Regions from separate parts of the Homo sapiens genome. Here region 1 is linked to region 2. Evidence: fine-mapped expression QTL. A gene starts in region 2. The other region holds a variant in brackets. All regions are shown on one strand. Distances are from middle to middle.

Region 1 (5,375 bases), 240 kb after region 2:
GGGGAGACATCTCTCTGGTGCTAAGAGGGAGTAGGGGACATGACATGGAAGGGCCTTGTTATAGGAGGAAGAGCCGTGAGCTAAGAATTGCAAGACATCGAGGCGCTGAGGCCAAAGGGTCCGTGAGGAAACAGGCGCAGCTCACGCCCCTCGGCCTACGGGAGGGAGGGCAAGGAGGGTTCTACGGTTCCTGGGAGGACGAGAAGAGCCAAGAGCCCCGACGGCCGGCGCCGGGGAAAAGGCCCCGAGGCGGGGTCCGCATCCCTGGAAGGGCGGCGTCCACCCTCCTGAGAGGCACGGGGCGCCCAGGGCTCGGAGGCTCAAAGCCCGCCGGCTCCTGCAGCTTCTGGGAGCCGAAGAGTGTCAGCCGGGAGGATCCCGCACACGGCGCTTAGTTCTGGAACTGCATACCCAGGGGAGGATGCGGGAGCCCGAAGCCCGGGTATGTGTCCCCGAAGCCCGGGTGTGGGTCCCCATGGTTTTCGTGTTGGGGGTGGGCGCGGAACGCTAAGCCTGGGCCTATTGGGAGCCATAGTCTTCTTGATGGCTGGTGCTTATTGGGCTTTTTTCAGTCGAATTTCGAAATGCAGTTGAATTTCTTACTTTGGAAACGATAATAGAAATGGCTGATCTAAGATTTTCATGATGATATTTTGCCTTTTTTGGTGCATATGCAGTTTCTGTGGTGTAGTGGTTATCATGTTCGCCTCACACGAGAAAAGTCCCTGATTCGAGACTGGGTGGGAACGTCGTGGTTTGTTTTTTTTTTTGTTTGTTTGTTTGTTTTTTTGGTCCCTAAATTTTGTGAGTTTAATCGAGGTTGGGAAACAAACAGAAAAGTATTTGAACCTGTGGCTACATTTTAGACCTCCTCAATCTAGACAGATTGTTGACCAGGTACAATTTCCACTGGTCTGCCAGCAAGAGGCCTGCTTAATATTAGCTTTGGTTCCAGAAATTCCTTAAGATTCTCTTTATTCTCTTCTGTCGCCTGAATTTTCACAGGCTGACACTGAAAGTGGATGACATCTTAGCGCATTTCCTAAGGGTCCCGCTTGGTTTGGCTTTACTCTGGTAAGTTGCAGATCTGGCTGATTTGCAAGACAACAAAAACAAAATATTTTTTAAAAAGGTTCTAAATCTGCATCTGGAAGTCATAGAGTCCATATTCCTAAATCACATGAATTATGTATATACATTTGCATGCATACCCCTTCCTCAAATAATCCTCAGAAAACCGGTTAAGTTTTAGCATCTGTGACTCAGATGCATATGAGGCCTTGGTAGATTTAGAAGTTGAGAGTAGAAAGTACAGGTTTGTATTTTAGAAGGAGATTTGGGAATAAATGTAGCTTTGGTTGATATAGATCATATGTTAAGGTTTGTTGGCCAGAGCTGGTGTGTGTCTTGGGTGTTGGGCAAAGAACAGAGAACAGCCAAAGCTCTGCGAGGTCAATGTGAAGGATGATTTCCTTGGTGGGCTCAAGTTTATGACTCAGCCTGGACCTAGCTTGGCTTCTCAGCTTGAGAAGAAGCATGATTCCATGTCACAGCTCCTGTCTTTGAAAAAGTCATAATGACTCCCAGACCCAACATGTGGAGAAAACTCTGGATTTGTCTCTTCAGTTGAATGTCTCCATTGAAAATTGAGGAAAGAAATCTCTCTAATATTTGAACTTCATCAAAAGACTAATATGTTAATATTTGACCGTCAATATTTCCTTAAACTAGTCTACTGCTTACATAGCTAACACATCAAAGCATATTAACTTAGGAAATGGGATTCTCCCAAACAATGAAACATTGACGGCAAGCGTTCTTCATCTTTTCACATCACATTTCCTTCAAATGCTTTATACATCTTCAAGCAGACAAATAATAGTATTATAATGATTACGAGACCGATCATTACTCTTTTGCCAAAAAAAACCAACGACAAAAGACTAACTTAGTGGACCAACCTTTGTTTCTTCATTATCTCTACCGTGGTTCTGTCCTTTTATTTCGTCTTTCTTCTAATTCTGCTTCTGCTTCTTATTTCCTCCCTGGATTTGAACTTTACTTACCTAAACTACCAGTTAGGTTACCTTCTCAGAACCTCTAAGGCAGCAGTTTGAGGTTGATGATGGAAGATTTAGGATTAGAAAAAAGAAACATGAATGAATTTCTGATGTTTTATTATAGGGGTTTGTAATGCAGGTAGAAAGACCTTTTTCAGAGTTAAGAGTTTGATCCGACAAATGAGCTATTTTGATATTTATAACGTTGTCTAATAAAAGTTTCCTATAAAAACACATTTGGTTTGGATGTCTTTGTTAGCTTTTAGTCGACACTTGAAAAAACCGCTTAGAACAGTTTCTAAATCTTTGTGGTTACTCTTTTCTGTTATCCTCCAGGGGGTAGTTCCAGAGAGGCGTTGGTGGTTTAGTGGTAGAATTCTCGCCTCCCATGC[G/A]GGAGACCCGGGTTCAATTCCCGGCCACTGCACGTGGTTGTTTTTCACTTCGCTATGGCTCTTTACTTGTCTTTTACGCTGAAAATTATACTGCATAACCCAAGAGTGCATTTAGGGGCTTGGCCACCACAAGGTAAAGTGACAACAACACTCACCAAAGTAGCGGCAGGAGACTAACCCAGGACCCCATGCAGTTGTTGGACTCAAACAGCTTAGCAAGCTGGCAAGCATGAAGTGTCTCTGGTGAGTCACTGCAGTTTTGATACTGGTACCTGTTACTTTCATTTATTCACTGGAAGGATCCCTGCAAACCCAAAGAACCATCAGTTTCCTGATTCGCGTGCTGGACCTTGGGCTTACCGTTGAGCCACTATGGAGAGGATCAAGAAATGACACTCTTGGAAGGAGAGAAGCTGCGGGCAGGACAGTCACCTCAGAGGTCCAAGAGTTGTCATCGGCCCAAAGAAAGGGGAGGTGTGTGGGCAAGAATCTGCGTGGAGATGAGGGGAGCGGCGGAGACTGGTCCTTGCGCAGAGGTGGCCAGTGAACCCTCAGGGCTGTACCCCAGACACCGTGAATCGAATTTGCTCACATCATCAGCGACCGCAGCCCCCGCGTGTTTTGTGGGCCCATCGGTGTTCCGCGAGGGATTCCGTGTGTCTGGCAATGTGTGTCAACAGGTGTTGGCCTGAAATTTGGCCGGGCACGTTGGCACACGCCTGTAATCCCAGCATTTTGTGAGGCCAAGGCGGATGGATCGCTTGAGGTCAAGAGTTCAAGACCAGCCTGGCTAACATGGAAAAATCCCATCTCTACTAAAAATACAAAAATTAGCCGAATGTGGTGGCATGCACCTGCTATTCTTGGGACGCTATACTTGGGACGCTGAGGCAGGAGAATCGCTTGAACCCAGGAGGCAAAGGTTGCAGTGAGCCAAGATCGCGCTACTGCACTCCACCTGGGCGACAGAGCGAGACTCCGTCAAAAAAAAAAAAAAAAAAAAAAGCAGCGAAAGAAGGCAGAGATGTCAATGGGACAAAGAGACCTCCCAGGAGGCTTGTTGTAGAGGCAGTGGCTGGATCCTGAGAGAAGAGATTTTTTTTAAATTATGTAGCAGAATGGGGAGAGAAAGGGAGAAGCACATGAAAGACAGAAAAGCACAAAAATCTGCGGACGTCCTAGAATAAACCAGATAAAATAGTGTGAGTGTTTTTACATTAAAAAAATAGAAGAAGTGCAATGGTTGTCAGCAGACTTTGTGGTCGTGTAGTGGTTAATACTTGTAGTTGTGGTTGCCACAACCTCTGTTCTAATCTGAGTCACAGTAGTGTTTTCTATCCTGCAACTGTGGCTAATAGACCTGTCGTTTGCTTTGCCTTTAATCCTAGCAGCCTCCAGAGAGCACAGGAAACCTCTGGCCCTGAAGGGCGCCAGCTTCTGGAGTTTAGCCCACAGCGCAGAAACTAGGGGGCGGCCTGGCCTATAGGAAAACTTGGACATGCTCTTTGTCTCACAATTGAGCAGGAAACATTCCCGTAGGTGAAGATGCCGCCTCTCAAGGGCCCTCTGTCTGTAGCTTCCAGTGATGAAATAATGCGGTTATAGTCTTTTTCGGTAGAGAAAACGGCTGTATCAGTGGAATTTTTTAAAAACACAAAATGAGAACGAGTTTTTCATGAGTTGACAATAAAATCTAAACTAGTTGTCATGGTTTGCACCGGCTTGCCTCCATTCCCCATCCGCTAATTTTTATGAGAACAGTAAATTATTACTATTATTATTATTATTGAGATGTAGTCTCGTTCTGTCACCCAGGCTGGAGTGCCATGGCTCAATCTCAGTTCACTGCAACCTGTGTCTCCCAGGTGCAAGCAATGAGAACAGGGATCCAGTTTCAGCTTTCAACATATGGCTAGCCAGTTTTCCCAGCACCATTTATTAAATAAGGAATCCTTTCCCCATTTCTTGTTTTTGTCAGGTTTGTCAAAGATCAGATAGTTGTAGATGTGTGGCATTATTTCTGAGGGCTCTGTTCTCCTCCATTGGTCTATATCTCTGTTTTGGTACCAGTACCATGCTGTTTTGGTTACTGTAGCCTTGTAGTATCATTTGAAGTCAGGTAGCGTGATGCCTCCAGCTTTGTTCTTTTGGCTTAGGATTGACATGGCGATGCGGGCTCTCTTTTGGTTCCATATGAACTTTAAAGTAGTTTTTTCCAATTCTGTGAAGAAAGTCATTGGTAGCTTGATGGGGATGGCAGGGAATCTATAAATTACCTTGGGCAGTATGACCATTTTCACGATAGTGATTCTTCCTACCCATGAGCGTGGAATGTTCTTCCATTTGTTTGTATCCTCTTTTATTTTGTTGAGCAGTGTTTTGTAGTTCTCCTTGAAGAGGTCCTTCACATCCCTTGTAAGTTGGATTCCTAGGTATTTTATTCTCTTTGAAGCAATTGTGAATGGGAGTTCACTAATGATTTGGCTCTCTGTTTGTCTGTTATTGGTGTATAAGAATGCTTGTGATTTTTGCACAAGAATTTTGTATCCTGAGGAGTCATTTTTAAAATAAATATATTGCAAATGACTTTTCCCAGTCAGTGAAAAGTCTGACTGAAAGCTGTCAACTGAAAAATCACACAATTTATAAATTTAGAAGGGAGATTTTATTTTTTATAAAGGGTTACAGCCTGCAAGGTGGCCATTCTGACAGACAGGGAGGCATACCCTCTTGCTGCTGAAACCTGAAAAGTACGTTTCCAGGGAGGGGAGGGGGGAACAGGGATTTATGTTGATGTGGTGGGCCACATATACATATTCAACAGGGAATAGGAGGAGCTCTGAATATTCATGAAGGGATCCTGCTGCATGCATGCTGAGTAAACATGCCTGTTACATGCAACCCATGTTCACTTTGGGGTGGA
Region 2 (5,375 bases):
CCACCGCCTCAACCCCAAGGCCCGTGGCAATGGGAGATGCCCAGAAACTCAAGGGGCAGGAATCTTTAGGGATCTCATTCTCCGTGTCCCACACCCCTAACAGGCCTGGGACAGATGGGAACAAAATACCCCTGGTGCCAGGCACTTTATTCTATTATCTCCTTGATTCCTACAATTCCACGTCCCATTACAATCCCCACTACAGAAAACAGGCTTAAAGAGCATAGTGATTTGCTCAACGCCACTCAAGGTGGCAGAGCCTCAATCCAAGCCCAGGCCAACCTGACTCCAGGGCCCATCTTTTGCCCCGTGTGTGGGCCTGGTCTAGATGCCTCCCTGCCCTTGAACGAGGGGAACCCTGGCCTAGTCCACCACCTGGGCGGCACCCACCCTCTCGCTGACCGCATTGTACTTAATGGCGAGCTCATCGCGCTCGGCACGGCTCTGGGCCAGCAGGTCCTCCACGCGGGACAGCTCCTGCTGCAGCAGCTGGTTCTCCTCCTGCAGCGACAGCAGCGATGCCATCTCTGTGGCCGGCAGCAGGACTGGCAAGGGACAGTGGGCACATGGTTGGCTTCTGGGTCCAGTGGGACATCCTCCCCCCAACAGGGAGGGCAAGAAAACCATCCAGGCCCCTGGGAGGAGTCCAGATGGGAATGGCTGCAGCACCAGGCCTGCAAACAGAGCTGAGAACAGGGAGGAAGGCAAGGAGGGGATACAAAGCTGGACGTAAAGTGAACACAACTCCAGCTAAAGTGTGGCCCAGCAGGTTTGGGAGGTGCAGGAGAGACACTCAGTCTAGGAGCCAGGAGACCCCTGAGTTCTTGCTCCCTCCTTTTCCAATTAGTCTTCTTCTCCGGGGCCTCAGATTTACTTATCTGTAATATGGGTGGGGCGGGCACGGACTCACGCCTGTAATCCCAGCACTTTGGGAGTCGAGATAGGAGGATCACCTGAGGTCAGGAGTTTGAGACTAGCCTGGCCAACACGGCGAAGCCCTGTCTCTACTAAAAATACAAAAATTAGCTGGGCATGGTGGTGTATGCCTGTAGTCCCAGCTACTTGGGAGGCTGAGACAGCAGAATCACTTGAACCGGGGAGGTGGAGGTTGCAGTGAGCTGAGATTGCGCCACTGCACTCCAGCCTGGGCAACACAGCGAGACTCTGTCTCAAAAAAAAAAAAAAAAAAAAAAAAGGTAGAATAGTAGTAACCAGATCCTCCCAGAAAAGCATCAAAGCCTCGCTCAAGAGAAGGGCTTCATGGAACTTTAAAGGCTAGGGCTCAGGAGAGCATAGCATAGGTCAGGTTGTGAGGAGAAGGAGAAAGAGAGAAGAGGGAAAGAAAGGCCAGCGGGAGAAGCGGGGTTGTCCACCTCCTGTGGGTTCCCCTTCTACCCTGGGAGAACTGGACATACACCCCAGGTGTCAGGGTGAGGGCCCTCTGAGTCTCTCCCTGTCTGGGGCTCCAGGGCGCCAACATCCCTGGCGCTCCCAAGGAGGGGGCCCGTCTGTAGCTTGGGAGTTGAACACAGACAATGGTTAGAGCACCAAAACGCCACACGCCAGCACACCAGCTGCAACTGAGTGTGCCTTTCCCAGATCCTCAAGCCACATAACTACACCGTGTGCGCCACCCACTGAGAGGAGCAGGGACCATCCGCCTTCCTGCCCACGTGGGAAACGGATGGACGGCGCCATCCACTCAGACTTCCGCAAAACCCTGGTCTGAGCTGAGCTGCCCTCTTCCTGTATCTTGGGTTCAGCCAGCTCACACCTTCCCCGGGTGGGAATACGGGATTTGGGGTTCACATCTCTGCAGCAGGCTACAGGCAAGCACGCAGGAGATGCTCGGCCCTTCCTTCTAGTTGCACCACATGCGGAATAAGTCTGGACAAATTACATCCCTGAGCCTCTGTTTCCTCATCTGTAAAATGGGTTCTTCTGTCATAAAGCTGTGCCTGCCCCACAGTGAGTTACAGTCATGATCATCATGGTGACTGCTCAGGAAAGGGACATGAGAAGAGGTAAAATGTGGGTGGTGTTTGTGGAGGGGAGCGGATGGGGGTGGCACCTGGGCTCTCAGGCTGGGAGAGGTTGCGGGTGACAATCTCCCTGATAAGGGCAGGCAGGCTGGTGATCTGAGCGTCCTGGGCCAGGTCCCGCGCGCCCAAGCCTTTCTCCTGGCACAGGACGCTGCTCTCCAGTGTCTGTGGGAAAAGCGAGAGGGTCTTCAGGGGACATGGGACCCGGGGCTCCCTGGCCTCGTGGGGAGAGCCACAGAATCCTACTGCCCAAGATACAGGTCCCCAGGAGCCCCCTCAAGATGGAGTGAAGCCTGGGAGTTAGAATCCAAAAAATCCCCATGCAAAGAGCCTCTTGTGTGCTCACTGCCCCAGGAAGAAGGCCCAGGGCCAGAGATGAGAACCAAACCCTACGGGTAACTCCCAAACCCCACTGGAGGCAGTCCAGTGTTGGGGGCCCCAATCCGGTTCCGACCCTAGATGGATGAGGATCTGGCTATGCCAGAGGTCCCCCAAGCCCTAAAATCTGGCAGTAGAGACCCCCTTCTCCCAACCCAGGGCACTGGGATGAGGGAGCCACAGCAGGTGCACCCTGTGTGTACCTCTGCCCCCCATCTTGCCAGGAACTGCAAGCGGGGGGCCCCTGTATACCCCACCACCACCACACCTCTCCCACCCCTTGATCCCCAAGACGCACACACCTCTCACCACTCCTGTTAAGTCCACGCTGCCCCGCCCCAGACAGGGTGGGCACAGCCCCCAGGACCCACCTGGATAACCGTCTCTAGTGTCAGCTCCACCTCCTGTGCCCCCGCCAGCCCCAAGCTCATGGGGGGGAGGCTGTGGGCATGCCTCCAGCCCCCTTCTCCAGGACCCCAAGACTAGCTCAGTCAGCACGCGCCACAGCCAGGATGCTGTGCTGAGCACCAGGCAGATTAAGCTTAAATCCGGCGGCGCCCCCATGTGACCACCGCGGTGGGAGGAGCAGGATGTGGGCTGAGGAGGGAGGGGATGGGAAAGGACAGGAGAGGAGGGAAGCAGAGGCAGGGAGCCAAAGGAAGAGGAAGGATGAAGAGAGGGGAGGAGAAGGGAGAGAAAAGGAGGGAGGAGAGAGAAGAGGGAATGGGAGGAGGAAACAGGGGAGACACCTGGAGGTCAGGACCTCACACACTCTTCACCCTGCGCAGGTTGCTGGGTCCTAGAGCCCTCCAAGCCCAGGGGGTGGGGTCAGTAGCCATGCGGCGGGAAAGGCCAGAGTCCTAAGTATTTGTGACCATCTTTCTGGCCCAGAACGGGAGTCACATGGTTAGCTAAGAATGAGAGGATTTACAGCATGCTGGGAGTATGTTTTCCCACAACAGGTGTAGGGCAAAGAATGCAGGCTGTGAGATCACCCAGGCCAGGCTTGGCACTTAGTTGGGCATGAGCGGTCCAGCCTGGACTGATGAGCATTTATGCAACACCTGCGGCATTCCTAGGTCTGACCTAGACACAGTGGTAGAGCCTCGAACTACAAATGCCCTAGCCTTGCCCTTCAGGCACTTATTGGGAAGCTTCTGGCCCCTTCACACCCACCCCAGCCCCCACTAGCTGGGTGCACCAGGGACACTGACTTTGCCTCTCTGAGACTCAGTGTCCTCTTACGTAAGATGTGATAATATTGGTACTCATCTCTCGGAGCCGTCCGGGGATGAAACAGTATCGTGTGTGCATACCCAGCACATGACATGGTGCTGGGGGGTCACGTGGCCAACACTCAAGAAATACTCATTTCATTCATTTGAAAATCCAGAAGGTACAGTCCCAGCCAGGCGCAGGCACTCATGCCTGTAATCTCGGCATTTTGGGAGGACAAAGCGGGTGGATCACCTGAGGTCAGGAGTTCAAGATCAGCCTGACCAATATGGTGAAACCCCGTCTCTACCAAAAATACAAAAATTAGCCGGGTGTGGTGGTGCACACCTGTAATCCCAGCTACTTGGGAGGCTGAGGCAGGAGAATCGATTGAACTCAGGAGGCAGAGGTTGCAGTGAGCCAAGATCGCGCCATTGCACTCCAGCCTGGGCAACAAGAGTGGAACTTTGTCTCAAAAAAAAAAAAAAAAAAGGCACAGTCCCTATATCCCAGGGCCCTGAGACCCAGAGGTCACCCACCACCTCCCATTGTTCTTTCCCTGGGGCAAGGAGGCTATGTGCTCTAGTGCTTAGGCGCACAGCTCTGGAGTCAGTATCAGGTCTGAGGTTGCATGTGAGACTCAGCTCTGTCACTTGCAACTATGGTGTTCAAGACAGTAAGACCTTGAACAGGTTACCTCCCTGAGCCTCAGTTTTCTCATCTCTAAAAGGAGACTAAACCAGGCCAGGTGCAGTGGCTCAAGCCTCTAATTCCAGCACTTTGGGAGGCTGAGGCGGGCAGATCACTTGAGGTCAGGAGTTTGAGACCAGCCTGGCCAACATAGTGAAACCCCATCTCTACTAAAAATACAAGAATTGGCCTGTAATCCCAGCACTTTGGGATGCTGAGGCAGGCGGATCAGGAGGTCAAGAGATTAAGACCATCCTGGCCTACATGGTGAAACCCCGTCTCTATTAAAAATACAAAAATTAGCTAGGCATGGTGGTGCACACCTGTAGTCCCAGCTACCTGGGAGGCTGAGTCAGGAGAATCGCTTGAACCTGGGAGGCAGAGGTTGCAGTGAGGCGAGATCATGCCACTGCACTCCAGCCTGGCGACACAGTAAGACTCCGTCTCAAAAATATAAATAAATAAATAAATAAATATAAAAAAAATTAGCTGGGGCGTGGTGGCATGTGCATATAATCCTAGCTACTCAGGAGGCTGAGGCAGGGGAATCACTTGAACCCAGGAGGAGGAGGTTGCAGTGAGCCGAGATTGTGCCACAGCACTCCAGCCTGGGTGACAGGGCAAGAGTCTGTCTCAAAAAAATAAAATAAAATAAAATGAGACTAGACCGAGTGTGGTGATTCAGGTCTATAATCCCAGCACTTTGGGAGGCCAAAATGGGAGAATCGCTTGAGCCCAGGAGTTTGAGACCAGCCTGGGCAACATAGCGAGACTCTGTCCTACCAAAAACAACAAAAAAATGCGACTGATAGTACCTACCACACCTGGCAGGTGGTGAGCTATTAGCCAATGGGGGCCACTGTTCCTATTGTCATTAGCATCACGTGTCTGGGCTCCTGCCCTTAGAGTTGTAAGCCCTAAAAAAGGACAGGAATTGCTCACTCGAGGAGCTCGGCTTTTAAGACACAAGTCTCCTGAAGTTCCCAGCCGAATAAAGTTCCTTCCTTCTTTAACCTGGTGACTGAAGAGTTTTGCCTGCGGCTTGTCCTG

The links.
Region 1: its variant is fine-mapped to the expression of CROCC in spleen (GTEx, PIP 0.96).

The regions. Positions count from the first base shown.
Region 1 is chr1:16,675,380-16,680,754 of GRCh38, reverse strand. TRG-CCC4-1 (tRNA-Gly (CCC) 4-1) reads left to right here and starts at 2,414; the gene lies at 2,414-2,484. RefSeq lists a silencer at 3,676-3,825 and an enhancer at 3,856-3,905. The variant G/A (reference allele first, on the strand shown) is at 2,453.
Region 2 is chr1:16,919,495-16,924,869 of GRCh38, reverse strand. CROCC (ciliary rootlet coiled-coil, rootletin) reads right to left here and starts at 2,939. Exons shown (of 37, transcript NM_014675.5): 1 at 2,792-2,939; 2 at 2,072-2,207; 3 at 391-545. The coding sequence starts at 2,851. RefSeq lists enhancers at 415-1,025, 1,209-1,980, 1,981-2,752, 2,753-3,524, 3,525-4,297.